Homo sapiens: one gene and its partners. The protein of the gene in region 4 interacts with the protein of the main gene of each other region in a pairwise test. Each region holds a gene or a part of one and is shown on either strand. Other genes may lie near its edges. The genes, in order: SCARA5, CERCAM, MAGEA2B and P4HA3.

Region 1 (7,681 bases), on a different chromosome or scaffold from region 4:
CAGGGGGTGGTCCTCGGCTCTGCCAGGATCTCTCCTCCCTGCCCCAGACACCACCCACTCTGGCTTCCCTGTGCTGCAGTGGTGTCCAGTTCACTGGGCTCCCAATTCCGGCCCTCCACCCAATGCCTCCACCCAGGCAGGGCCTCTAGGTGGGGCCGCGGGCAGCTCCAGCACTGCTAAGTTGCAAGGGACCCTCCCTCATTTCATGAGCACTGTGTGCGGCAGCCCTCCCTCTGGCTTCACTCCTTGCGGGGCTGTGAAGCAGGAGGCCAATGTCTCTTTTGCCTGCAATAACCCTCCCTCTGCCAAAGGCAATAGCCTCTGCTTCCCAGAGGCCACACAGAGCCAGACAGGGCGCTGCCCCTGGGGAGTGGAGGTGTGAGGCCCCACTGCCATTTCCACCTTCCTCCTCTTCTGGTCAGCTCCTGGGACGGGGCTGGAATGCACGGCTTGTTAGCCAGAATGTGTGTGAAGGGCAGCTGTCTCCTTCCTCCTCCCCACCCCTCAGCTGGTCCAGCAGGAGCCCAGGGGATCTGCTGGGGAGAGGGACTGGGGCCGAGCGGGGCCAGATGTGAGTGCACAGGGCTTGGAAAAGCTCAGACAACTCTACTCATGTTTGTTACTTGGAATTGAAACCTACGCATGTTCTGTCTGCCCAAGGTTTCTTGGGGGCTGTTTTTCTTTCTTGGGGGAGGAAGCAGGCATTGGGACCCTCAGATCATGGATCTTACTGTCTTTGGACCAAGTCTGTGCTCTAGAAGATGAAACTGATGGCAAGTGCTCCTCCCAGGAGCACTGTGTTGGGGGTAGGCTGATGGCATTTGCATTCCGTCCCTCCCATTTTAAACATAAGCCATCCCAGACCAAAGAGGCAAAGGAAGGAATGGATATCAGAGCGGGAAGAGGCCCCGGGCACAGTTTTCCTACACAGGGCACTGGCTCAGCTGCAGGGTTGCTTTGTTTGGGAATTGCATGTCAGCCCCTTTGGTGACCACTTTCTGGGCCCCAGATCAGGCAGAGAAGAGAATCCCACCTCAGACTGCCAGCCAGTGTACTCCAGCAGGTGGGGATCCTGGGACTGAGGCAGGGCTCTGAGAGCTTGAAGCACATGGGCGAGATGTGGAAGCCACAGTGACCTGTGGATGAAGCCCAAGGAGACTGGACCTCAACTTGCAACTCAAAGAGGGAGGTCTTGCTCTAACAGGGAGGTGTCACCCTCTCCACTAACCTCTTGGCAATCATGATTTACTTCCAGACAATTTCACCCAAGGCACTTAGAAGGGCAGGTTCAGAGCCAGGGATCTGCTTCTAGATTCTGCATTTTAGAGCTGGAAAAGCCCTCAGCCATCTGTGCCCTGCAGCCCTGTGCCCTGGGGCCATCTGCGCCCTGCAGGCCTGGCTCTCTGCAGGAATGCAGGGAACACAGAAGCCAAGGGCTCCCATCCTAGCTCCTCTGCGTATTGGTTTCTTGGGGGAACTTGGCTCAATTACCTGACCTCATTCAGCCTCAGGTACATGACCTCTAAGATGGGAAGGTGGGTAGCTGCTGGTCACCCAGGATCACTGTGAGCCTCCCGTGAGATAATGCATGTGGCATGACTTTATGAACAAGGTCACTCAGGGGAGCTGGTGGCAGTCTGATGAGAAAAAGCATCCCCCAGCATCTTCTGACTCTGCCTGGCAGCCAGGTAAGGGGGTGTCCAGGTTCCCAAGGCCTCCCTCCTACCTAGCCAGTCTCAGAAACAAAGCTGTTTGAAGTTCCCTTTGTAAAAGGCAATCGCGAATGCACTCTAGGGCTGATATCAGGACCCTGGCTCTTCAATCCTTCTCTGGAGATCAGAAGGACTCCATTAATTCCTCCTCTGAGTGGGTAGCACGAGCCTCATTTGCTGCTACCAAGTCAGTTTCTCTGGGTACCCGCATCTAACTCTGCAGGGTTTATGGCTTTTCTTTGGATTACCTCACTTTAAACTCATCAAAACCAAGGAAAAAAATCACATGAGTGTGGCCCTTCTCCAAAGAGAGAATCACTAAGGAGGTTTTAAATGTTTTCCTCCTCTAACTGTACTTAGTTAAGCTAAATCATAACCCAAAGCTGGACAGAGACAGATATTTTAGAAATAACCTCTCCCCACATATATCCCACCACTGGCACATGCACACGCACAGACATGCACACACACACACATGCACACACACACACATGCACACACACACATGCACACACACACATGCACACACACGAAGCCATGGAGAGGAGCTGTCACCTGAGCCATCTGCACCCTGAGTAGGCTCTTGAGCTGTGACATGAGTCAGGTGGAGTAGCCACCAAGGCAATAGCTTCCCTCTGGCACCCCAAATGCAGGCTCACATTCTCTCCAGCCCAGGCAGTTGGATGAGGGCCCGGCAGATATCTGCGGGCCCAGCAGGCGGGGACCTTCCCACCTGGAGAAGGCACCTCCAGGCTCTAGGTCTGAAGTTTCCCAAACTCTGTACTCCTCTCCATCCAGTTCACTCCAGTCTCCTCCAGCTGTCTTTGAGACAGCATGCCCAGGAGATAGGACAAAATTAGTACCAAGACTCACCTGAGTGCCCCTGGCTGAGGCTGTAGAGCCTTGTCCCCTCAGATCTCAGCATTTGCCATGGTGGCCAGAGAGCTGGCTGCCACCACGCTGAGAGCCAGGCCGCCCCTCGGACCGCGTCCCCACAGCCAGCCAAATCCAGATGGAGTCATAGAAAGGGGCTGCAGGGGCGCCCAGGGACGAGTCTCAGAGCAGGACCACAGGGGCCACTTCTGCAGGAGGACCAGGTCAAGATGCAACCTGTGGCAGAGTGGGGGTCTGGGCCTGGGGGACCCAGAATGGGGGGTGTGCGCCTGGGACTCCCTGTCCTTGGTGCCTGGTCCTGGGTAGCGATCAGGAGATGTTCTGAGGAGGCACCGGCAGCTCCTCTAGGTACTGCCTGAGATGCGAACTGCAGCTGCTCTCGCCGCCAGTCCGTATAAAATAAAGTTCTTGGAGCAGTTGCGGAGGCTTCTGCAATGGGGTCTGGAATACGGCCCCCCTCCTGCGGCCAATCGTGGCATTACAGCCCCGTGTGGGAACGCCCGCTGGGCCCAGAGCAGCGCGGTCGGCCTTGGCCTTGGGACTCCAACACCCCAGTCTAAAGGTCCTGCTCAAAATACTTTTTGGAAGACTTCTGGGGGAGTGGCAGCTAGACCTGGCTTATGAGCCACGCAAGAAAACCAGTCTTGTAAATTTATTTATAGCACAGAATTGGCATGGCTCAATTCATTCACCAAGCTTGGCACAGAGTTACTTCATGTATTTTCCTGGAGTCACATTCATCCTCAGTGGACACGGATTGGCCACACTGGGGGTAGTCAGGAAAATGCCCCAGGGGGTTCCACGGAACTCAGCAGCAGAATCAGCGTTTCTGGCTCATTAACGCTGCACAGGGGCTGGGGGGTGCAGGATGAAGACTAGCTGGCTGTCCATAGCAATTCAGTATGGGAGGGGGACCCAGGCACGAATAATCCTAAACCTGAGCATGATTGCTTACGTTTGAAAAAGGACATCTAGGCCGGGTGCAGTGACTCACACCTGTGGTCCCAGCACTTTGGGAGGCTGAGGTGGGAGGATTGCTTGAGCCCACCCACAAGTTCAAGACCAGCCTGGGCAACATAGTGAGACCCCATCTCTAAAAAAAAAAAAAATCTCTTTAAAGGCAATCTAACCATATGTGAAGGGAGCTGCTAAATTCAGATTGAGGTGGTAGTATCAGGGGCATCAGAGAAATCACCATAATTGTCCAAGCCAGGGTGGCAGAGTTAGGCTATGCAGATGGCTTCCAGAGGACAGCACCCAGAGGTAACATTCATGAATGCATTCCTGTTTGTTGGTGAAAAGTTCAGCCTCAAGACTCCAGGGTCAGGCTTCGTACATGAAAAGTGTTTGCCAAGACTCAGCTGTGTCACTGCAGCTGCCCGCCCACAGCTGAGTCAGAAACGCCGTCCTCATTCTCAGTGACTGCCCTGCCTGACTGCCTAGGAAGCAGCTCCAACATCAAACTCCATTTTACAGAAAGAACAAATGATAATTGTATCATTATGGTAATAATCCCAGGGAGCGGAGGAGGAGAAGGAAAAGAAGACAACACTTTATAGCATATACCATGTGTTTCTTATATATTAGCTCATTGAACCTATTCAACAACCCCCTGAGGCAGGTGCTGCTATTATGCTCATTTACAGAGACAGAGAGGAAGTGACTTGTCCAGGGTCTTGTAGCCAGTAAGTGGCAGAGCTAGTATTCAACCCTAGGCAATGTGATCCTAGGGTCTATGCTCTTAACCCCTCCCCTGTACCATTGCCTCTCAAGGGGAAACAAATGTTTTTGTCCCCCATCAATTCACCAACATTCCTAGGAATGTAATCTTAAAAACAGCCAGAAATGTGCTCAAAATATGATGTCCAACCAGCCTGGGCAACATGACAAAACCCTGTCTCTACAAAAAAAAAAAAATACAAACAATAGCTGGGCGTGGTGATGCACACCTGTAGTCCCAGGTGCTTGGGAGGCTGAGATGGGAGGATCAACTGAGCCCAGGAGTTTGAGGCTGCAGTGAGCTGTGATCGCACCACTGCACCCCAGACTGGGTAACAGAACAAGATCCTGTCTTAAAAAAAAAAGTGATGTCCAAAGACCTTCCCTAAAGAGATGTGTATGTTAGCAAGAAATGTGGTAGTTAGTGTCCCCCTAAATTCAAGCATTGGAAATGTAATCTTTATTGCAACAGTGTTGGGAGGTGGGGCCTTTGTGGGGGTATTTGAGTCATGAATGTATTTGGGATGCCGTAGAAAGGGCTTGCAGGAGTGGGCTGGCTTGATCCTCTGCCTTTCTGCCATGTGAGGACTCCACGCTCATCCTCGCTTGTCCTCCCACCTCCCGCCCTGTTCGAAGCACTGAGTCCTATTGCGTGATAGGCACATACCACACACAATGTGTATATCGGTCTCCTGCTGAAGGGGGTTTGGGATGTTTCCAATCTTTGTCTATTATGAATAAAGCTGCCGGAACAGGCAAAGGGAGATTTGACAGTGAAGTATAGGAATGACCTGGAGGGCTGGTTTTCTCATGGGTGAGAGTCCTCCCGGCAGCTCTTAGCTCAGATACCTCCTTGCCACTAAAATCAGAATTGTCCCCAAAATGATTTGCTTCCATTCAATCACGGATGGCATTTGTAGTAGGCATTTCCCCCCCAGAAGCTGAATGAAAATGTGATTGCCTTGATAGAGGAGGGTTCAATAGACTTCTGAAGTAGTTTCATCTATGAAATCTCAGTATTTGAAATGGAGGGACCAAGCTTTTTCAGTTTGTTTTTTCTAGAGGTAGGATGTCACTTTATCACCCAGGTCGGAGTACAGTGGCACAATCATAGCTCACTGCAGCCTCGACCTCCCAGGCTCAAGTGATCCTCCCACCTCAACCTCCTGAGTAGCTGGGGCTACAAGCACATGCCACCACACCCAGCTAATTTTTTAAAATCCTTTGTAGAGATGAGGTCTCGCTATCTTGCCCAGGCTGGTCTCAAACTTCTGACCTCGAGCAATCCTCCCGCCTCCACCAGCCAAAGTGCTGGGATTACAGGTGTGAGCCACCATGTCCAGACTCCATTTTTGACTCTGATAAATGGTGCTGCTGTGAACATTCTTGTGTGTGTCTTCTGGGGAACATATGAATGCCATTCTCTTGGGCATATACCTGGGCATGGAATCGCCAGGGCATAGGATGGCCCTGTGTTCAGCTTTGGTAGACACTGCCAAAGAGTTTCCTATGGTGGTTGTACTAGTTTATATCCAGCAGGGGATGAAACTACACTTATTCCTTGTCCTTGTCAGTGTCAGTGATGTTTATTCCATTTTCCCTGCTCTGGTGCATTGTAGAGGTGCCATATTGTGGTTTTAATTTGCATTTTCCTGATGACTCATGAAGTTGAGCACCTTTAATTATGTCATTAAGTCTGATTGTTGACTTGAACTCTGGGCCCGTTACACCAGCAGGTCCTGCCCTATGGCTTGGGGTTGGCTGTTCCATCTGCCTGGAGTGGTTCCACCAGATGTTTGCACAACTAACTTCTTTGCCTCATTCCCATCTTTTCTCAAATGTCACTTTGTTCATGCTGCTGAGCCTAATGATTCCTACCCACAGGCCAGGCATGGTGGCTCACGCCTACAATCCCAGCACTTTGGGAGGCCAAAGCGGGAGGATCACTTAAGGTCAGGAGTTTGAGACCAGCCTGGTCAACATGGTGAAAACCTGTCTCTACCGAAAATACAAAAATTAGCTGGGTGCAGTAGCAGGCACCTGTAGTCCCAGCTACTCGGGAGGCCGAGGTGGGAGGATCACTTGAACCAGGCAGGCCGAAGCTGCAGTGAGCCAGGATTGCACCACTGCACTCCAGCCTGGGTGATAAAGCGAGACCTGATCTCAAATAAATAAATAAATAAAATTGCTACACACCCCTTGCCACTCTTAGTCCCCCTCACCCTGCTTGGTTTTGCTTACTGTCTGCTAGAACAGCAGCTCCAGGAAGGCAGCTCACTTGAGTGCTTCAAAATGCCTAGCAGGGTGCCTGGCGCACAGTACACGCTCCAGAAATATTGGTTGTGTGACAATCTGAGGAAACAGCATCAGGCACAGGGAACAGAAGGCTCAGAGGCCTCAGTATGGAAACACACTGGACATGCCGGAGGGGCAGAGAAAGGCCCAGTGGCCAGAGCACAGAGGATGCAGTGGCCAGAGAGAGGAGGTCAGGGGAGAGGGAAGCCTGGGTCTCACCCTGAGCACAGAGTGGAGCTGAGGCCACGCCCTTCTTTTTTGTCTCTATCTTCTCCCAGGGAACACATCGATCCTGTACTGTTCATATTTTTGCTTCTTTTTTTTTTTTTTTTTACATATTTCTTCATTATAGTTTGCTACTTCTTGTTTAAACTTTTTAAAAAAATTAATTGTGGTAAAACACACATTGCATAAAATTTGCCATCCTAACCCTTATTTATTTGTTTGTTTGTTTGTTTATTTATTTATTTATTTATTTATTTATTGAGACAGAGTCTTACTCTGTGGCCCAGGCTGGAGTGCAGTGGCGTGATCTCAGCTCACTGCAACCTCCACCTCCTGGGCTTAAGCAATTCTCCTGCCTCAGCCTCCCAAGTAGCTGGGATTACAGGGGTGAACCACCACGCCCAGCTAATTTTTGCATTTTTAGTAGAGACGGGGGGTTCGCCATGTTGGCCAGGCTGGTCTCAAACTCAAATGATCCACCCGCCTCAGCTTCCTAAAGTGCTGCGATCACAGGTATGAGTCACCATGCTCAGCCCTAACTGTTTTTAAATACATAGTTCAGTAGTGTTAAGTACATTTGAATTGATGTTCAACCAGTCTCCAGAACTCTTTTCATCTTTCAATACTGAAACTCCACTCATTCAACAACTCCCCGTCCCCTGTCCTCCAGCCCCTGGCACCACTCATTCTCCTTTCTGTCTCTTTGAATTTGACTACCCCAGGGACCTTGCTATTTCTTTATCTGTGGCCTACTCTGCAAAAATACACTCGAAAATGTTTACCTTTAGTATTTTCTTTTTGGTTAGTTTTTAATCTGGTTCACATGAAATATAAGT
Region 2 (6,991 bases), on a different chromosome or scaffold from region 4:
TACGTGTATGTGTATATACGTGTATATACACGTATATATGTATATATACGTGTATATATACGTATATACGTGTATATATATGTATATATATAAAGTGGCAGGGTGCAGTGGCTCACGCCTCTCATCCCAGCACTGTGGGAGGCCGAGGTGGATAGATTGTTTGAGCCCAGGAGTTTGAGACCAGCCTGGGCAACATGCAAAACCCAGTCTCTACAAAAAAAAATGTGGCCAGGCATGGTGGCATGTGCCTGTGGTCCAGCTACATGGGAGGCTGAAGCAGGAAGATTGCCTGAGCCCAGGAGGTTGAGGCTGCAGTGAGCTGGGTTTGCGCCATTGCACTTCAGCCTGGGCAACAGAGGGAGACCCTGTGTCAAAAAATATATATATACATACATACATACATACATATATATATATATATATATATATATATATACACATACACATACATACATATATATATATATATATATATACATATATATACATACATATATATATTTAAAGTGCAAATGGCTTTTATTGAGGGCCTACTGTGTGCTGGGCAACATGTCTGCAAGGGTCCTGCTTTACCTCCCTGTACTTTGCACCGGCCAGGGAGGAGGGTGCTGGGGAGACCCAAACATCAAGCTGGGGGAGGGTGCTGAGGTGGAGGTAGAAGGGGGCAGAGGGGCCCCTCAGCTGAGTCCTTAGGGAGGGAAGGGATCCTGGGGTCTGCCCAGCTTGAAACAGAAGCTGGGGGCCACAAGGCCCTGAATCAGGCCAGGCAGGGTACAGGGGCCTGGGAGTCCTGCTCCTTTGCTGTGAGACCTTTAGGGAATGGGATCCATCTCTGAGTGGTTTCTCCCGATGAAAGACAGGTCCAGAGGGCAGAGTGGCCATGCCCAAGGTGGTGGCCAGGTCTGACAGGATCTGCAGTCCCTGCCAACAACCTCCTCCTCTGCTCTCTGGGCAGTAGTGGCCTGCTCCTGGACACTGCTTTGCAGTCATCACCTGGACCTGGTGGGACAGGAGGAGCAGGAAGAGAAAGAGAATTAGAGTCAGACAGAATCAGAGACAGACAGACACTGACAGATATAGGAAAACAGGGGCAGAGACAGACAGAGAGGGAAAAAGCTAGAGAGGGATGCGGAGACAGCTGAAGGTACAATTATAGACAGACACAGAGGCCAGGCACAGTGGCTCACGCCTGTAATCCCCAGCACTTTGGGAGACCGAGACGGCTGGATCATTTGAGGTCAGGAGTTGAAAACCAGCCTGGCCAACATGATGACACCCTGTCTCTACTAAAAATACAAAAGGCCAGGCGCGGTGGCTCACGCCTGTAATCCCAGCACATTGGGAAGCTGAGGCGGGCAGATCACCTCAGGTCAGGAGTTCAAGACCAGCCTGGCCAACATGGTGAAACCCTGTCTCTACTAAAAATACAAAATTTAGCCGGACGTGGTGGTGGGCGCCTGTAGTCCCAACTACTCGGGAGGCTGAGACAGGAGAATCGCTTGAATCCGGGACGCGGGAGGCAGAGGTTGCAGTGAGCTGAGATCATGCCACTGCACTCCAGCCTGGGCAAAAGAGCAAGACTCCATCTCAAAATAAATAAATAAATAAAAATAAAAATAGAAAAATTAGCCAGGCCTTGTGGTGGGTGCCTGTAATCCCAGTTACTGGGGAGGCTGAGGCAGGAGAATCTCTTGAGCCCGAGAGGCAGAGGTTGCAGTGAGCCAAAATCACGCCACTGCACTCCAGCCTGGGCGACAGAGCGAGACTCCGTCTAAAAAAAACAAACAAACAACAACAACAACAAACATAAAGGCAAAGCTAGAGATGGAGAGGGAGAGAGAAGGCTGAGAAGGGGAAAACAGCCCCAGACACAGTTATGCCATCAAAGGGGAGAGCAAGCCAAGGTCTACGGGGCTGGGGCCTCTTCCCGCCCTGGCCTCACCTAGAGCTCATCTCGGGGCTGGGGTTGGAGGCTGTGCCCGCTGCTGCCAGTCAGGTCCAGGCGGGGGCTGCGCAGGGTCTTTTGGGAGCCGCTCCAGCTGATGAGGCGGCCGCTGTCATCATCCCATGGAGAGGATGTCTCCGTGTCACTGAGCCACTCGGCGTCCCCGGCATAGTGGGTAGGGGCAGCGAGCAGGGGCTGGGCGGAGAAGGCCACCAGGTCCCGTGGCCAGAAGTGTGCCTTGTACTGCTCGCTGTAAGGTGAGAGGATAGCTCAGGGGGATTGAGGCGGGCCCCTACTCCCCGGACACATGCCTGCCCGGAGCCAGGCACCTTGCCTGCCCAAAGCACCTCACTCCCCGCCATCTAGTCCTCACAGCGGCCCTGAGCAGTGGGACTTCTACTACCTCCATTTTCCAGATGAGGAAACAGAGGCTGAGAACAAGGAAGTCATTTGATTAAAAACTGCATGCAGCCGAGCGCAGTGGCTCATGCCTATAATCCCAGCACTTTGGGAAGCCGAGACGGGCGGATCACCTGAAGTCGGGAGTTCAAGACTAGCCTGACCAACATGGCAAAACCCCATCTCTACTAAAAACACAAAAATTGAGGCTGGGTACAGTGGCTCATGCCTGTAATCCCGGCACTTTGGGAGGCCCAGGCAGGCAGATCACTTGAGGTCAAGGAGTTCGACACCAGCCTGGCCAACATGGAGAAACCCTGTCTCTACTAAAAATACAAAAAAGTTAGCTTGGTGTGGTGGCAGGCACCTGTAATCCCAGCTACTCAGGAGGCTGAGGCAGGAAAATCAGTTGAACCTGGGAGGCGGAGGTTGCAGTGAGCCAAGATTGCGCCACTGCACCGCACTGGGTGACAGTGCAAAACTCCATCTCAAAAATAAATAAATAAATAAATAAATAAATAAAAATTAGCAGGGTGTGGTGGCACTTCCCTGTAATCCCAGCTACTCAGGAGGCTGAGGCAGCAGAATTGCTTGAACCTGGGAGGCAGAAGGTGCAGTGAGTCAAAATCATGCCACTGCATTCTAGCCTGGGCAACAGAGCAAGACTCCATTTCAAAAAAAAGCCTGCATGCACTGTGCAAAGTACACACCGAGAATGGACTGACTCTAAGGCTAGGCTGAGCCACTCCTTGGTGACCTGGGCCAAGTGGCTTGGCCTTGCCAGTCCCAGTCTCCCCATCTGCCAGGTGAGGGGACTTCCTGCTGACTGAGGTGAGTTCCTGGAGGGGACGCCTCTGCCCTGCCATGCCCGGCCCCCATCAGAGCCTCACTTGGGGTGCTGGTCGAACATGATGGGCAGGAACTCGTCCACGGGCAGCATGCGGCGCAGAGGCTGTGAGGCCAGCAGCTTGCGGGCACCCGCCAGACGCAGGGCATAGGCCAGCGTCCAGTAGGAGTACCCAGCCACCACCAGGCCCGGCAGCCCCTCCACGGCCGTCTCCTTCTCAGGGTTCACCTGCTTCCGTCCGAGGTAGCTGTAAGTGACACCAAGGGGCCCAGGAGTCACTTAGGTCCTGGGTGTCATGGGACCCTCCCACACCCGCTCCTACAGGGCCAGGCTCTCAGGGGATGGGCCGGCCAGGGTCCCAAGCAGGAAAAGGCAGACTCCGGAGGCCCACCCTGCCCCCTTGTCCCTGAGGGTGCAGGCTGCCTACATCAGGTCCCAAGACAGTTTCTCTGCCTCCACATCCTCCATCAGCCGCTCCAGCCGCCCCCTGAAGTTGCTCTCAAAGCGCACGTCATCCTCAAACACCAGGACCCGGGCCAGGCCCCTGGCAACCACCTGTGGCATACAATGGGGTGGGAGATGGCTCTTCGGAGTTAAACAACCCCCCTCCCTCCACGCTGAAGCTCACAGCCTCTGCCTGGCCTCAGTTGGCCTGGCCACATCATGCAGTTGCCCCAAAGCCTGCTGGGGGCCCCACTGCCTGGGACCGGAAATCCCAACCTCGCTCTGGCATTTGAGGATCTCCAGATAGAATCATGATGGTAACCGTGGCCCTTGCTACATTCCCTGAGTGCTACTGTGCCCCAGGGCTGTGCCACTGCGTATCTGCAGGGGCCCTCAGGAGGCAGGAGATGATGATCCTCAATCGCAGGAAGGAGGTGGACATGCAGGGATGGGAAACTGCCTGTCCAAGGACACACAGCCAGGAAGTGGCAGAGCTGGGATATGAACCCGCATCTGCTGAACACCAGGGCCCAGCTTGTCACTTTGGCCTCCTGCAATTTTCCTTTTTTTTTGAGACGAAGTTTCACTCTTGTTGCCCAGACTGGAGTGAAATGGCCCCCCAAGTCAGGGGGCTGCATGGAAGAGGAGCAGGAACGGTGGAGGCCAAAGCAGCCATGGCCAAGACCAGGAGCCATCTCCCCTCCCACTCCTCCAGCTGCCTGAGTGCAAGCATGACAGATGGTGGCTGGGCCCAGAAGCCCAACTCTCTGGGGGCGGGGAAGTGGCTTGCAGTTCCCATCAAAAGATGGTCTTGGCTCACTGCAACCTCTGCCTCCCGGGTTCAAGTGATTCTCCTGCCTCAGCCTCCCAAGTAGCTGGGATTACAGGTGCCCACCACCACACCGGGCTAATTTTTTTTTTTTTTTTTTTTTTTGAGACGGAGTTTTGCTCTGTCGCCCGGGCTGGAGTGCAGTGGCACAATCTCGGCTCACTGCATGCTCCGCCTCCTGGGTTCACGCCATTCTCCTGCCTCAGCCTCCCGAGTAGCTGGGACTACAGGCGCCGCCACCACGCCTGGCTAATTTTTTTGTATTTTTAGTAGAGACAGGGTTTCACCGTGTTAGCCAGGATGGTCTCGATCTCCTGACCTCGTGATCCACCCGCCTCGGCCTCCCAAAGTGCTGGGATTACAGGCGTGAGCCACGGCGCCCGGCCAACGCCGGGCTAATTTTTGTATTTTTAGTAGAGACGGGGTTTCACCACGTTGGCCAGGCTGGTCTTGAACTCCTGACCTCGTGATCTGTCTGCCTCAGCTGGGATTACAGGCGTGAGCCACCGCACCTGGCCTGGCCTCCTGCTATTTTCTAAAGGAAGCTGGGCTGGGTGGGGGGTGGGAAGACCCCAGCCCCGAATATCCAAAAGAAAAAGTACTTTTGATAACTTTTGGAAAAGTTACTTTAGAATAACTTTTGGAAAACTACTTTTGATAACTTCTGTGAAAAGGAAATCAGCTCAGAAAGTAGTGAAGCCAGGAGCGGTGGCTCATGCCTGTAATTCCAGCACTTTTGGAGGCTGAGGTGGGTGGAATCACTTGAGCTCAGGAGTTTGAGATCAGCCTGGCCAACATGGCGAAACCCTGTCTCTACAAAAAATACAAAATTTAGCTGGGTGTGGTGGTGCGCGCCTGTAGTTTCAGCTCCTCGGGGGTGCTGAGGTGGGATAATTGCTTGAGCCCGGGAGGTCCAGGCTGCAGTGAGCCAAGATCACGCCACTGCACTCCCGCCTGGGTGCCAGAGCAATACCCTGTCTCAAAAAAAAAAAAAAAAAAAAAAGTAGTGAACCATGTCATCCTCCAATTTGTTCAGGGACGGTAAAAAAGCCAACATAGGCTGGGCATGGTGACTCAAGCCTGTAATTCCAGCACTTTGGGAGGCCGAGGTGGGCAGATCACCTGAGGTTGGAAGTTCGAGACCAGCCTGACCAATATGGCGAAACCCCCTGTCTACTAAAAATAGAAAAATTAGCCAGGTGTGGTGGCACATGCCTGTAATCCCAGATACTTGGGAGGCTGAGACAGGAGAACCGCTTCAACCCAGGAGGCAGAGGTTGCAATGAGCCAAGATTGTGCCACTGCACTCCAGTCTGGGTGACAGAGCAATACTCCATCTCAGAAAACAAAACAAAACAAAAACCCATAATGCTCACATACACGTGCACATATATTTGGCTATAGCAGAGAACACAAACAAGGAATCCATGTCCCATCTCCTGGAAGGGCTGCCCTTGGAGGGCCCAGTTCCCATTCTCTCCTGCCGTGTCCAGCAACCTCTTTCCTGCGCTCACACTCCCAGCCCCTGGGCCGAGGCTTCTTGGCCAAGTACTGAGCACATGCTAAGCCCCAGGCTTCCTTCTTTCTGCTCCTAAACACCTTCCTGCCTCAGGGCCTTGGCACCCACTGTTCTCTTCTGCCTAGAAGCCTCTTCTCCCGGCCCCTCAATGGTGAGGTCCATTCTGACCCCCTCCCACACGAGGCACCTCTCAAAGTGGCCCATACCTCTCCCCTCCACTGCAAGCTTGGTTTTGATTTCCATAATCCCGCTCTGGTCCCTGAGCCCCAGGGGGATCCCTTTATTGCAGGAAGGAGCAGACATGCATTGTTCCTGTCCTCCTCTGTGTTCTCAGAGCAGAATATCTCCTAGCACATAGTAGATGCTCAAGAGAGACTGCAGAATGAAAACAAGCACCGCTTAGTGGTGCCCACTGGGGTGTTGAACACAGAGGAGATTGAAAGCTGCTGGCCAGGTTTTGATGAATGTCTTCATTCACTCACTCGTTCACAGAGCAGTGAATAGAACAAACTGGCCCCGTTCTCCCCGAAGGCTGTGGATGGAGGAAGCAGGCACCCTCACCTCTTCCCAGATGGAGTAATGGCTGAGGAAGCAGCCCACCTCGCCCTTGGTCAGAGTGCGGCCCGAGTAAGGGTCCTGGTAGCCCGGGAGCAGGTCTACGCCGAGGTTCCTGATGGCACTGCTGTTGAGCATCCTGAGGGACACAGGTGTGGCGGGGTGAGGGGTGCCTGCCAGAGACCCCTCCAGAGGGGCCAGGCCTGTGCATGTTGGGGACAGTCACACTGGAGTCGGGTTTGAAGAAGGTTTCTGCCTTGTAACTCCTTTGTGTGACCTGAAGCTGTCAAGGGACTGGACCTGGGGAACTGGAGCCCCTGTTGCCCAGGCTGGAGTGCAGTGGCACCATCTCAGCTCACTGAAACCTCTACCTCCCAGGTTCAAGTGATTTTCCTGCCTCAGCCTCACAAGTAGCTGAGATTACAGGTGCCCAGCTAATGTTTTTTTTTTTTT
Region 3 (7,671 bases), on a different chromosome or scaffold from region 4:
ACAAAAGGTGTCGGAACAATTAGACACCTATACACAAATTATAATAACCTGGACATATCCTTACATATTCCATGAAAACTAACTCAAGATACATCATAGGTCTAATGAAAAATGCAAAAACAATACAACCTCTATAAGAAAACATAAGAGAAAATCCACATAACTTTGAGTTTGGTGATGAGTTTTTAAATTCAACACCAAAAGCATGATCAAGGAAAGAAAAATTTGCCAAGTTGATTTTATTAAAATAAAAATCTTATGCTCTTCAAAGGACAATGTTAAGAGAATGAAAACAGAAGCCACAGACTAGCAGAAAACATCTGCGGTACACATATGTGATAAAGAACTTGTCTCTACAATATATGCGAATTCTTAAAGCTCAATGATAGAAAAAATGAAAATAGTCAAAGATCTGAACACACACTACACAAAAGAAGATATACACATGGCAAATAAGCATAATAAAAGTACTGAGCACCCTTTGGCATTAGATAATTGTGTACTAAAATGGGATACCACTGCACACCTATCAGAATGTCCAAAATCCATAGAAAACCAAAACAAAGAATACAAGACCAAGAACAATTGCCAGCGAAGATGTGGAGCAACGGAAACTCTCCTTCATTGCTGGTAGAAATGCAAAATGGCACAGCCACTTTGGAAGGCAGTTTGGCGTTTTCTTAAAAAAATGAAAATAGACTTAGCACAAGATTCAGCAGCCATACTCAATCAATTTACCCAATTGATTTGAAAACTTATGTCTACATAAAAATTTGTATATGAATGTATACAATAGCTTATTTCATAATCACCAAAAATAGAAGCATCCAAAATGTATTTCATTTGGTGAATGGATATATATATATATATATATATATATATATATATATATATATAACCAGACATTGATACTACTCCTCAATGAAAAGGAATAAGTTCCAAGCCACACAAAGTTATACATGACTCTTCAGTTCATTATGCTAAGTGAAAGAAACCAGTCTAAAAAGGCTACATAGTATAAGATTCTATTTATATGACATTCTGGAAAATGCAAAATTATAAAGATGAAAAACCTATCAGTGGTGGCCATGGGGTTTATCCGACAAGCACAAGGGAATTTATCAGGGCAGTGAAACTGGTATGCATAATACTGCAATGGTGGTTCCGTGCTTGCTTTGGTCTGAATATTTGTGTTGCCACAAAATTCATCTGCTGAATTACCAAGGTGATGGTATTAGGCAGAAGGTGGGGTATTTGGAGAATGACTAGATCATGAGAGCAGAGTCCTCATGAATGGGATTAGTGTTTTTATAAAACAGACTCCACGGAGATCCCTTATCCCTTCTTGCATGTGAGGATCTAGGGAAAAGGCAGCTGTCTATGAACTAGGGAGCAGGACTCCACCAGACATGAAATCTGCCAGCACCTTGATCTTGGACTTCCCAACCTCCAGAATGTGAGAAATAAAGTTGCGTTGTCTATAAGCCACCCAGTCTATCACTATTTTTGTTATGGAAGCCCAAACGGACTAAGACAATGGCACGAGGCATTTGTCAAAACCCATAGATCTTTACAGCACAAAGAGTGAAGCTTAATGTATGTAAAGTTTAAAAGTAACTTAAGAGGTTGGAGAATCACGGGACGGCAGGTAGAATGTTCCACACACACACACACACACACACACACCTAGTTGTATAATAGATATATGAAACCACCACAATGAAGCAAGTGGGGGGAAAAGTTAACACATTTTGTACTCCATCAAAGAAATATATATTTTATAAAGTTTAAGTTGGCCAGATAAGTGTGTAACATAGTTGAACATTTGATAATCATTTATTTAATTTTTTAGATATGAAAACTATCGGCTTTTTGTTTTAAAAAAATCCTTATCTTTTAAAAATGCATATTAAGTTATTTAGAGATGAAATGGTCTAATGCCTTAGATTTACTCCACGTTATTCCAGCAGCTCATATGCAGGTAGGCGAGTGTTTAACTGGAACCAGATTTGCTGTGTATTTAAAGATGTTCATGCTCGGTATCAAGTATCCTGGGTTCATTATATTCGTTCCTGTTATTCTGTATGTGTGAAGGCTTTCCCTAATAAAACTTTTTTATCATAAATATGCCATTAAAAGTGAAATCCTAAATGAAACTGACCACTTTGTAGAAATAAAATAAATCAGTAACCAAACTGATCCAAAGAGGAAAAGAAAACTTTAACTATACAACAGAAACTGTACAATATTCAAAGCTCAAGCCACCCTCAAACATTCCAGGTTAGACAGCTTTGGAGGCCAATTTTACCAAATGATCAGGGAAAACTAACCACCGCCTTATATCAACTCTTCCAGAACATACAAAAGACTGACAATTGTTCAGTTCATTCTCCCAGGCTAGCCCTCCTGGATTTAAAAACCAGATGAGGACCACATACCTCCCCTGATGGAAAAAGAACACATCAAGTAAGCTCTCTTACACAGCAGTAAATATCCTACATAAATTAGTAGTACATTAAACGAATAAACAGGCTCTGCCCAAGGAAATAAAATATGATTTAACATTAGAAAAAACATCTGTTTCATTGTGATTCCTTACATACAAAATGGAAGAGAAAAAAATTTGATCCTGCCAACGGGTACAGAAAAAGCTTTTTAAATAAATTTAATATGAATTCATGGTAAAAAAGAAAATATTTAGGCAACCTATACTGAAAGAGAACTTCCATTTCCTAAAATCAACAGCAAACATACTTAAATGTCAAATGTTCGAAGAATTATCATTCAAGTCAGGAACGAGAAGTAGATGTAGCCTATTATCTCTACATTTGAAATCAGGATTGAGACACAAAGAGCTGTAAGTACCGAAATGAGTGAGTGGTATGAACATTGGAAAAACATGTAGTGTTTAGTGATAATACCATTATCGATCTTGAAAATTCAAAGGAAAAGGTATGCGGAATATTCAAGTGCATCGGCCTTCAGAACGAGGTATGCAACAGATTACTACAGCAAAATCAAAATCTTCACCTCACGAAAGCAATAACTAACTACAACAATTGATAGACAATATGCCACTTGCAATAGCAACAAAATCCAAGAATTACCTGAATAGAAGCCTAATAAAAATGTATAAGTTGTTTATAGAGGCAACTACCGAAGTATACTGACATATTCAGGAAAAAAGAGCTTGAAATCCATAGAGGAGTATAACATATTCATTCACGGGGAACACAACAGTGTAAAAATGTAAACTCAGCTTAAATTATTTACAATTTAGTGCCTTACCTGTAGCCGCCGACATTACAAGCAAATTTGGGCTGCTGTGCTCTGCTTCCCAAATCAACCCTGTAAATTTATAGAATGGAAACAGAAAGTAAAACACCAGTATCAGCAAGAAAATCTACACAACAAAACAGGGAAAGCCCAGAGTGAGACTGGAGACTGTGTTGAGCTGGTACTTGTGTGTGACACTTGCAGTGTCTGTTGGAGGGGGTTAGCGGCAGAGATGTTGGGGAGGTTTGTAGCCTGCCTAGACGGCAGATGAAAGAATGGGTAGAATAAAAGTTTTGAATTTTCCACTTCACTTCATTGCACAATCTGAGGCAGCCCCTGAAAACACGATGCCAAGAGCCCTAGGTAATAGCAGTGTCCACCAGGAAAATTGGGTTTGTTAAGGCAGCATGGCTCCAGAGTTCTGCTAATAACAACCTGAAACCAACAGAGTGGGAGAGGAATTATGTTTTTTAAAAAAATTCTTTCAACAGAACACAAAGACTGGAATGGAAGTAGACTAGGATATCAGAGTGAATCATGCATACTAAGGGTAGGTGTTAGTTCATAGAAATAAATATATATATTGCTACCTACATATATACTTAGAAGATATGTAAACCGTATTTCTTCAATTCAGAGAATAAATCATTTAGGACCAAAGGTTTGCCAAGTGTAGCTCTGGCTGGGGAGGAGCCCCCGTGGGAAGGTGTGCGTCTTCTCCCAGAGGTCACTATCATCGCGGGAGCTCCTGCCCTGCAGGGAGCACCTGGCCTGGCACCCGCAGCCATTCTCTACAAGGGGTGCAGATGCGCAGATGCGCAGATGCTCAGAGGTGACAGAAACAGAGCATCTCCCACCCATTCCTTCATCAAACAGCCAGGAGTGAGGAAGAGGACCCTCCTGAGTGAGGACTGAGGATCCACCCTCACCCACATAGTGGGACCACAGAATCCAGCTCAGCCCCTCTTGTCAGCCCTGGTACACACTGGCAATGATCTCACCCCGAGCACACCCCTCCCCCCAATGCCACTTCGGGCCGACTCAGAGTCAGAGACTTGGTCTGAGGGGAGCAAACACAATCGGCAGAGGATGGCGGTCCAGGCTCAGTCTGGCATCCAAGTCAGGACCTTGAGGGATGACCAAAGGCCCCTCCCACCCCCAACTCCCCCGACCCCACCAGGATCTACAGCCTCAGGATCCCCGTCCCAATCCCTACCCCTACACCAACACCATCTTCATGCTTACCCCCACCCCCCCATCCAGATCCCCATCCGGGCAGAATCCGGTTCCACCCTTGCCGTGAACCCAGGGAAGTCACGGGCCCGGATGTGACGCCACTGACTTGCGCATTGGAGGTCAGAGGACAGCGAGATTCTCGCCCTGAGCAACGGCCTGACGTCGGCGGAGGGAAGCAGGCGCAGGCTCCGTGAGGAGGCAAGGTAAGACGCCGAGGGAGGACTGAGGCGGGCCTCACCCCAGACAGAGGGCCCCCAATAATCCAGCGCTGCCTCTGCTGCCGGGCCTGGACCACCCTGCAGGGGAAGACTTCTCAGGCTGAGTCGCCACCACCTCACCCCGCCACCCCCCGCCGCTTTAACCGCAGGGAACTCTGGCGTAAGAGCTTTGTGTGACCAGGGCAGGGCTGGTTAGAAGTGCTCAGGGCCCAGACTCAGCCAGGAATCAAGGTCAGGACCCCAAGAGGGGACTGAGGGCAACCCACCCCCTACCCTCACTACCAATCCCATCCCCCAACACCAACCCCACCCCCATCCCTCAAACACCAACCCCACCCCCAAACCCCATTCCCATCTCCTCCCCCACCACCATCCTGGCAGAATCCGGGCTTTGCCCCTGCAATCAACCCACGGAAGCTCCGGGAATGGCGGCCAAGCACGCGGATCCTGACGTTCACATGTACGGCTAAGGGAGGGAAGGGGTTGGGTCTCGTGAGTATGGCCTTTGGGATGCAGAGGAAGGGCCCAGGCCCTCCTGGAAGACAGTGGAGTCCTTAGGGGACCCAGCATGCCAGGACAGGGGGCCCACTGTACCCCTGTCTCAAACTGAGCCACCTTTTCATTCAGCCGCGGGAATCCTAGGGATGCAGACCCACTTCAGCAGGGGGTTGGGGCCCAGCCCTGCGAGGAGTCAAGGGGAGGAAGAAGAGGGAGGACTGAGGGGACCTTGGAGTCCAGATCAGTGGCAACCTTGGGCTGGGGGATCCTGGGCACAGTGGCCGAATGTGCCCCGTGCTCATTGCACCTTCAGGGTGACAGAGAGTTGAGGGCTGTGGTCTGAGGGCTGGGACTTCAGGTCAGCAGAGGGAGGAATCCCAGGATCTGCCGGACCCAAGGTGTGCCCCCTTCATGAGGACTGGGGATACCCCCGGCCCAGAAAGAAGGGATGCCACAGAGTCTGGCCGTCCCTTGTTCTTAGCTCTGGGGGAACCTGATCAGGGATGGCCCTAAGTGACAATCTCATTTGTACCACAGGCAGGAGGTTGGGGAACCCTCAGGGAGATAAGGTGTTGGTGTAAAGAGGAGCTGTCTGCTCATTTCAGGGGGTTGGGGGTTGAGAAAGGGCAGTCCCTGGCAGGAGTAAAGATGAGTAACCCACAGGAGGCCATCATAACGTTCACCCTAGAACCAAAGGGGTCAGCCCTGGACAACGCACGTGGGGGTAACAGGATGTGGCCCCTCCTCACTTCTGTTTCCAGATCTCAGGGAGTTGATGACCTTGTTTTCAGAAGGTGACTCAGGTCAACACAGGGGCCCCCATCTGGTCGACAGATGCAGTGGTTCTAGGATCTGCCAAGCATCCAGGTGGAGAGCCTGAGGTAGGATTGAGGGTACTCCTGGGCCAGAATGCAGACAGGGGGCCCCATAGAAATCTGCCCTGCCCCTGCGGTTACTTCAGAGACCCTGGGCAGGGCTGTCAGCTGAAGTCCCTCCATTATCCTGGGATCTTTGATGTCAGGGAAGGGGAGGCCTTGGTCTGAAGGGGCTGGAGTCAGGTCAGTAGAGGGAGGGTCTCAGGCCCTGCCAGGAGTGGACGTGAGGACCAAGCGGACTCGTCACCCAGGACACCTGGACTCCAATGAATTTGGACATCTCTCGTTGTCCTTCGCGGGAGGACCTGGTCACGTATGGCCAGATGTGGGTCCCCTCATCTCCTTCTGTACCATATCAGGGATGTGAGTTCTTGACATGAGAGATTCTCAAGCCAGCAAAAGGGTGGGATTAGGCCCTACAAGGAGAAAGGTGAGGGCCCTGAGTGAGCACAGAGGGGACCCTCCACCCAAGTAGAGTGGGGACCTCACGGAGTCTGGCCAACCCTGCTGAGACTTCTGGGAATCCGTGGCTGTGCTTGCAGTCTGCACACTGAAGGCCCGTGCATTCCTCTCCCAGGAATCAGGAGCTCCAGGAACCAGGCAGTGAGGCCTTGGTCTGAGTCAGTGTCCTCAGGTCACAGAGCAGAGGGGACGCAGACAGTGCCAACACTGAAGGTTTGCCTGGAATGCACACCAAGGGCCCCACCCGCCCAGAACAAATGGGACTCCAGAGGGCCTGGCCTCACCCTCCCTATTCTCAGTCCTGCAGCCTGAGCATGTGCTGGCCGGCTGTACCCTGAGGTGCCCTCCCACTTCCTCCTTCAGGTTCTGAGGGGGACAGGCTGACAAGTAGGACCCGAGGCACTGGAGGAGCATTGAAGGAGAAGATCTGTAAGTAAGCCTTTGTCAGAGCCTCCAAGGTTCAGTTCAGTTCTCACCTAAGGCCTCACACACGCTCCTTCTCTCCCCAGGCCTGTGGGTCTTCATTGCCCAGCTCCTGCCCGCACTCCTGCCTGCTGCCCTGACCAGAGTCATCATGCCTCTTGAGCAGAGGAGTCAGCACTGCAAGCCTGAAGAAGGCCTTGAGGCCCGAGGAGAGGCCCTGGGCCTGGTGGGTGCGCAGGCTCCTGCTACTGAGGAGCAGCAGACCGCTTCTTCCTCTTCTACTCTAGTGGAAGTTACCCTGGGGGAGGTGCCTGCTGCCGACTCACCGAGTCCTCCCCACAGTCCTCAGGGAGCCTCCAGCTTCTCGACTACCATCAACTACACTCTTTGGAGACAATCCGATGAGGGCTCCAGCAACCAAGAAGAGGAGGGGCCAAGAATGTTTCCCGACCTGGAGTCCGAGTTCCAAGCAGCAATCAGTAGGAAGATGGTTGAGTTGGTTCATTTTCTGCTCCTCAAGTATCGAGCCAGGGAGCCGGTCACAAAGGCAGAAATGCTGGAGAGTGTCCTCAGAAATTGCCAGGACTTCTTTCCCGTGATCTTCAGCAAAGCCTCCGAGTACTTGCAGCTGGTCTTTGGCATCGAGGTGGTGGAAGTGGTCCCCATCAGCCACTTGTACATCC
Region 4 (7,028 bases):
AGCATTATAATGTAAGAATATTCTCAGTTGGGAAAAATGATTTATAAACATTTTTAATGACTGTGTTAAAAAACCATCATACAAAAAGAAAAGAAAGTTGTTTTCAACTTAAAAAAAATCCTTATATAATGTACCACTCATCTGGGATATGCTTCTGGGAGGGGGACACTCCCTGCTTGGGCTGCAGCAGAAGGCAGTGGGGAGAAAGTCTTAAAGTTCTGGGAGTCAGGCTAGCCCCTCCTGCAGGTGTCCTCATTGCCACTTCTTGGTCCCTGTGGTCAAGGTTCAAAGTGCCAAAAGACCCACTGATCGAACCTGAGACTGTTGAGATGTCCTGTTCCCAACAGAGAGTATCTGAACTCCAGAAACTTCCCTCTCAGGCCTCCACTCCCCCCTCCTTTGTACTGTGCATCCTACTCTGACTTCCGTGGCTGGGGCAGATCAAATGTACATTCTCAGTGTCCCCTGGTAACAACCTCTCCCTTGCCTCTGATTTGCGAGGCACAGACAAAGCTGACAAGGCCTTCTTCCAGGAGGCTGCTCTGCTTTCTCCTCTCCTACCCCAGCTTTTGGCTCCTGGCTTCTCTGGAAAGCCACAGGACTCCACCAGCTTCTCTCTGCCAACAGTTCAGTCTTCAGGGCTGGAGCTGCAGGGTCTGCGGAATTCCTGTCCATACTCATGTATCCACTTGTTGGCCACTGGGAGAGAACAGGGAAGAAGGAGACAGCAGGCTCAGCAGAACAGACAGCAGCAATGCTGCAGACTGGTGCGCACTCATAGGCGCGTGTGAGTGCCCCCTTAAATTCTGCATCCTAGGTAACTCACTTGCCCAGCCTAGTCCTGGCCTCACTATGGACTACAAGCTGTTTCTTCCAGCAGATAAATAGCAAAGAGGACATTGTCCTCTGGAAAAAAGTCACAGGTCCTGTCTCCTGTAAACTCATTTTCAAACGTTTGGGAACTAAGATCACTCACCCTTCATTTTAGAAGCCCATGTTCCCCATGAAGCCATTCCAGAGTACTGAGAGAAAAACGGGTGGCATCTCCTGGCAGCCTCCACCTCAGCTTATGAGCCCCCTTCCACTTCTCTTTCTGTTTCAGAGCTAAGTGCTCCTGGATGTATATGTGACATAAACACGTCCATCTGCTTATTGATCTCTTCTTTGTTTTCCCACCTCCTCATGGGGAGCACTAAACAGGAGAGACAATGGCTTGACACATCTTTCCTTGGGGTAGAGTGTGGATGGGACACCATATTCCTCTCTGGCAGTGCTCAGGAATCAAGGCCTATCTGGTCAGGTGAATAAACCTTTACTGACTGTCACTCTGTAACAGGAACCCCTGCCTGTTATAGGCTCCCAGTCTGTTGGGGGCACCTCATTCATAATCTGATCTTCTCAATATAATGTGGCACTGTAATGAAGCGTTTGGAATGGGATGGCTGTGGTAGGTCCCACCCATCCCCTGTTTCACTCTACTCTGCACCCTGTACCCCCTTCTCATGCCCAGAAAGGCAAGACTTACCCCACTTATCTCCCACCAGGACAGGACAGCCAGCATGAAGTGTGTCACTGTCCCCTTCACCACTCCTGTGCAGGTTCCACCAAAACAGTGCTGCATTCTGAAACAAGAGGGCCCAGCCCCAGGGAGGGTCAGCCCAGAACCTCAGTCCTCGGGAAGCACATACTAAGGACAAATGCAGGCATGTCATTGAAGAAGCCTTTCCATGCAGTCTGGGGGCAATGCATGCATAAAATGGCACAAAATGGCATAAGTTGCCATTTACTCCTTCATGCATGGGTCACTGACAGAGTCCCCTGCACCCCAGGTCCTGGGGCTGCAGGGACAAATTACGTCCAGTTCTGCTCTCCAGGAGCTCACAAGAAACAGACATAAAACAGACCTGAACAAGACAGCATGGTGAGTTCTGGGAGAAAGGTGAGCACATTTGTCATTGGGTCACTGAGGAGAAACACCGAACAAAACCACAAGGTGGAACAAAATATTCCCATACAGCCAAGCATGTCATTAACTCAGAAGCTTTTCCTCCCTCAGGCACTTATGATTAACACTTTCAGGGAGCAGGCAGTATCATAATCCCCAGTTTCCTAGCAAAGAACTTGAGGCCCAGGGCTTTAAATAATGCAATAAAAGAAGGAGCAAAGTGAGGACTCAAGCCCAGGTGTTCTGACGCTAAATCCTGTATGTTTTTCCCCCATACACGGCTTCTTTGCCGTATCTACTTCCTGTAGTCAAATTACTTTAACCTTGGTCCTCAAAGTAGACAAAACTCCAGGTCATGAAGAGCTTTCCAGGATGCATTGGCAGTCTCTATGTTCCTAAGCCTACAAGAGGCGTCAAGCTCCTGAGTATTCAGAGATACCTGGCATTGATTATCGAATGCTCAGGATGTGCCAGGCACTGTACTACCTGCTTTACAGGAATGATCTCGTTTAGTTATCTTCATTTCATTCCTAAATTAGGTAAGGGCTGCCAGGGAGTTGGACTGATCTGAAATTTGGAGGAAATACTCATTCATGAAGCAAACCTCTTAGACTCAGTTCTCCTCAGCGCCTATCCTTTCCAAATCCCTATTGCAACATCATAATGCCTGCTGACGTCTCTGTAAACTCCTGGATCAAAGGGCTATGAATTTCCCTCTGCACCCTCCGTGCCTCTAGCTCTCAATGTGGACTGAACTAATGATGGAAGGAACTAGATGCTGTAGAGGATCCAAAGTAAATAAAACAGAGCTCTTATCTTGAGGAGCTGTACTGTGACAGGGAAGACAGACATGTAATCATCTACTTGCAATATAAGTGTAAATAAAATAACAAATAGAGGCACAAGTGACGAGCATGTGTGCGGTAGTAAAGAAGACTATGGGATGATCTGTGATTCTGGGAATTGGGGAAGACCTCTTTTTGGCCCTCCTCCCAGGAATGGGCTTGCAAGCACAGACAGCGTGAAGGTTAGAGGGTAAGCGCTGCACTCCCTCAACCCCGTCTTCTGGGACCAGGGCCCCACTCACCCTAACCACAGGCACGCTGAGGTTGGCATAGATGAAGGCTGTGGCTCCTCCAGCTTCCACCGAGCTCAGCTACAAGACCAGAGGAAGAAGCCAGAGTTAAAACTGCCACCGACTTCCCTACCCTGTCATATGATGTCACATCTGCATAGATTCCTTCTCATGGTCTTTTCTTCAACTCTGAGAGAAATACTTGAAAGACAATCATCCAACTCAGGAGGAACTTCGGGAGCCTACTCAATGGCATTGGTGTTTGCCTACAGGGCCACAAGAGGACAATGTTTTGGTATTCTTCCTTTCTTTCCCTTCCAGCTAACATCCTTATTGAGGGCTACAATAAGTAGATTCAAACTTTTTGACTGAGACCCTTAGGAAAAAATACATTTTAAATAATGACCCAAGACACACACACATACACACACACACAGACACATACACACACACACCTCCTGAAATATAATTGTCATAAAACATTCTTAATATCTGAGATAGCTTCTGATCTTCTCTACTTTATTTTATTCTATTCTAGTGTGGTTCTCTTAAATGCTCATCAGAACCACTAAATTAATCTCACAACCTATAATGGATCATGACTTGTGGCTTGAAAACCAGTTTAGACTATGATTCTTCTTGAAAGCTGGGCATCATAGGAACTACTTATTACACCTTTGGCATATTCTCCAGATCACTCTGCTCCTCTCCAGGGAACCCAAGCTAAGGAGTTTCATCACTGGTCTGTTCTAGGACTATGGATATGTTTTCTTAATGTGAAGCTTTTTTTCTGGTTGTCACAGAAATATATAATAATTGTAAACTGTTTTAAAACAGGAAAATATTTTTAAATAACAATAATTATCATTGTACCATCCAGAAAAAAGTTATAGTTTACATAGTGATAGTTGACATTTATTGGGCACTGACTATATGCTAAAAGTTACACTATGTCCTTGCAAATATATTATCTCATTTATTCCTCAGAACAATCCTAGGAGTTACAATCGTTATTATTTTTAACTCTTCACATTTTACAGATAAAGAAACCAAGTCTCAGAGAGCTTAAGCACTTTATAAAAGGTCACATGGCTCTTCCATGATGGAGTCAGGATTTGAGCTGAGCTGGTGCCATGTGACTACAAAGTCCCTGCTCATAACCATCATGCTACACATTTGGAAATTTAGGTCATATCCAAATGTTTACTATTATAAACAACACTGCACTGAACAACTTAATGAAAAAAAATCATTTTGCATTTTGGATTGTTTTCATAGGAAAGAGTCTTGGCACTAGTATTATGGGGTCAAAAGGACATGCATAAGTTTCATACTTCTTATACATTTTGCTAAATTATTTTTTCAGCAGTTGCATCACACAAGAGTGCCAGTTTTACCTCACGCTGCCTAGCATTATCTACCAGAAGGTTCATGCTCTGTAATCTTATGGCAGTCAGATCCCGGTACATTTACTTGTGTTACAGAGCAAGAGGTATAGGAGGTAGGACGCTGGCCCTTGGTAGATGCAAGTGAACTGACATGGTGATTTGGAACCTGGAAATGGCAGTGGTGACTATTAGCATTCCTTGGCTCTCCCTGTAGCACACTGGGAAAGCCGATGAGAACAACAATTGGCTCCTTGTGTTCAGGTAACAAATTAGATTATTCTATTCTAGCCCTTGTCAGTAAGGGGCAACCTGGACTTTCCTGCATTCTTTTACCTGTGGTTTTACAATATGGTGGAAAGGAATGACATAGCCAACACATTAAAAAGAAAATCGGATTCTGCATGCAATGAAGCTCATGAGCACGGCATGGGCTGTAAGAACAGTGGGAAAGGGAGAGAAATCTTCCGTCTGTATACCTTCTACTATTTTGTACTGGGGCTGATCTTTTTTTTTTAATAGAGACAGGGTCTCACTATGTTACCCAGGCTGGACTCGAACTGCTGGGCTCAAGCGATCTTCTTGCTTGAGCCTGCCAAGTAGCGGGGACTACAGGTGCACACCACCGCACCCAGATTGGGACTGATCTTATGTCCAATCTGAGCAGAAAATCACCAACTGGACTTCAACTCAATCCTCTGTACTTCTTAAAGATTATTTTCTCCCTATAAAATCAGTCTTAGGTTTCCCACAAACCTTAACATTTGTCTTGAGAAATGTTTGTCTTGAAATTGTCTCGAGAAATCCCAACCTGAAGATGAAAGACTTGGGCATAATCTAGCACTTCCCTGGTCCCATGATACTGATTCCCCTTTATGATACCCTTTCCTTTAATTGCTCTGTGGGATACAATGACAGAAACATACAGTATGGAACTTTCCAGAGTGACATCCCTCCTTACATTATCTCATCAGACCCTCACAACAACACTGTGAGGAAGCACAGGGCAAAAAGTGAGCTCACATAATAGATGTAATCTGTGCTGAGGCCACATAGTAAGTGGCAAAATCAGGATTAGGTCAACTGACTCCAAATCCAAAGTGTATTCCATTCCACTCTGTCTCAAATACTTAAAACCCAAATGCACATGCATGCACACACATGTGAAAGTGCATGAGAGTGCATGCACACACATACACACACACACACACACACACATGCATTTGCCATTTAAAATTACTGGGCTCTTATACCCACGCTACCTTCGCTATAGTAACTGGGGCCCTGTAACCAGGGAACCAGCCATAGGAGATATTGAGGGGATAAAGAACAGAGATATATTGTGCCCTAGATGCCCTGTTTTTTGGCAGCAGTTCATTCTTTCGCCGTTTGTGACCTCCCATAACAGCTGGAGTGGTCAACCAGAGATGCAACCAACTGCAGCTCCAAGATGTGTCCCCTGCCTGATAGCTGACCTCAGAATGATCAGAATGAGGCCAGACACCATTGTAAGTGGAAGCCTTCCAGTTCCATAGGAAGTACAGAACTGAGCCACATAGAGAAACACACTGGAATTGCTGGCATTAAAGACTACACAGAATGCTGGCCTCTGACTGCCCTTTCTTGGCTGTCCTGTGGAGACCAGAGACAGTCCTAATAGAAGAGGAAAAGCTGGGGTGAGGGATGTCTGCTATTCTAATGAGGCTGAAACAAGGACTTCATCTTTGGTTGTTATATAGAACCCTTATATATGTTTGTCCCTTCAGTTAACAGTAAGGTATCTCTTCTAATAAGTGATTAATTCTAATATTCTCTTCCAGTGACAGGTGATTGGAAGCTTGTCCATAGAGACGAAAGTAAACCCACATGATCTGAAGGGAAGGGGACAGGTGAGATGATACAGACTGGGGCCGAATCCTGATCAGGCCAGGAATTAGGAGAGAAGTACAATTTATTGGTTTATCTTGAAAGGGGAGTCATGGAGATTTTACTGAAGATTTTATAGAGAGATAAGGAAGAGAATTTTCACTAAACATCAGAGGCAGCACTTGCTGAATTTCTCTCAGTGTCTCTGTTCTTCCCTCTTGTAAATCTGCTGCCTCATTCCTCATCCATCTCCCTCCCCACAGCCCCACAACCTCATCTATGGGTTGTTTTTCAACACTGATTAGTCCATGAGACCTCAAGGACACAGATTCTCAGATCCTCCTCCTGTGTTGTTCAAGTCCCTCTATCTCTTGGCCTTCAGTGGAGCTCCACTTCCCATCCTAATCCACTGCCCATACCAAGGTCATATTTAGATTTACACACTGTCAGCCTCTTTCAGGGTAGAAACCTTGTCTTGTATTTCTTTACATCTCCTACAGTGCCTATCAAAAATGCTGTCTGAAATTCGCAAAATTCCTGGAGATTTTTGCGCTGAGTACCAGATAAAATCAATACGTGAAATTGCTTTGAAAACAATAAAATAAAGTAGAGCTATAGTCAGTCATGAAGTAAGAAGCCCAGAGCAATACTCACATAGATCATAAATGTTGCAACTCGGTTTCCTGACTTCATTCTGTAGAGGGGGCTGCTTGGTGACTGAGAAAAAAAAAAACAGAACATATTATTTTATGCAGAT

The links.
Region 1: the proteins of P4HA3 (region 4) and SCARA5 interact in binary tests that used the Homo sapiens proteins (3 or more experiments, as listed by UniProt).
Region 2: the proteins of P4HA3 (region 4) and CERCAM interact in binary tests that used the Homo sapiens proteins (3 or more experiments, as listed by UniProt).
Region 3: the proteins of P4HA3 (region 4) and MAGEA2B interact in binary tests that used the Homo sapiens proteins (3 or more experiments, as listed by UniProt).

The regions. Positions count from the first base shown.
Region 1 is NC_000008.11:27,989,672-27,997,352, forward strand, and holds the start of SCARA5 (scavenger receptor class A member 5), read right to left. Parts: upstream 3,003-7,681; 5' UTR 2,586-3,002; intron 1-2,585. UniProt on the Homo sapiens protein: Ferritin receptor that mediates non-transferrin-dependent delivery of iron. Mediates cellular uptake of ferritin-bound iron by stimulating ferritin endocytosis from the cell surface with consequent iron delivery within the cell.
Region 2 is NC_000009.12:128,430,857-128,437,847, reverse strand, and holds the end of CERCAM (inactive glycosyltransferase 25 family member 3 isoform a precursor), read right to left. Parts: intron 6,678-6,991; coding exon 6,545-6,677; intron 3,747-6,544; coding exon 3,619-3,746; intron 3,439-3,618; coding exon 3,235-3,438; intron 2,196-3,234; coding exon 1,943-2,195; intron 1,000-1,942; 3' UTR 501-999; downstream 1-500. UniProt on the Homo sapiens protein: Probable cell adhesion protein involved in leukocyte transmigration across the blood-brain barrier. Does not express any beta-galactosyltransferase activity in vitro.
Region 3 is NC_000023.11:152,709,968-152,717,638, forward strand, and holds the start of MAGEA2B (melanoma-associated antigen 2), read left to right. Parts: upstream 1-4,660; 5' UTR 4,661-4,715; intron 4,716-4,879; exon of another isoform or gene 4,880-4,961; intron 4,962-5,111; 5' UTR 5,112-5,190; intron 5,191-5,989; 5' UTR 5,990-6,109; intron 6,110-6,680; exon of another isoform or gene 6,681-6,778; intron 6,779-6,928; 5' UTR 6,929-6,994; intron 6,995-7,074; 5' UTR 7,075-7,139; coding exon 7,140-7,671. UniProt on the Homo sapiens protein: Reduces p53/TP53 transactivation function through recruitment of HDAC3 to p53/TP53 transcription sites. Also represses p73/TP73 activity. Proposed to enhance ubiquitin ligase activity of RING-type zinc finger-containing E3 ubiquitin-protein ligases.
Region 4 is NC_000011.10:74,266,620-74,273,647, forward strand, and holds the end of P4HA3 (prolyl 4-hydroxylase subunit alpha-3 isoform 1 precursor), read right to left. Parts: intron 6,989-7,028; coding exon 6,926-6,988; intron 3,102-6,925; coding exon 3,033-3,101; intron 1,623-3,032; coding exon 1,526-1,622; intron 1,193-1,525; exon of another isoform or gene 977-1,192; intron 700-976; coding exon 629-699; coding exon of another isoform or gene 442-628; 3' UTR 38-441; downstream 1-37. UniProt on the Homo sapiens protein: Catalyzes the post-translational formation of 4-hydroxyproline in -Xaa-Pro-Gly- sequences in collagens and other proteins.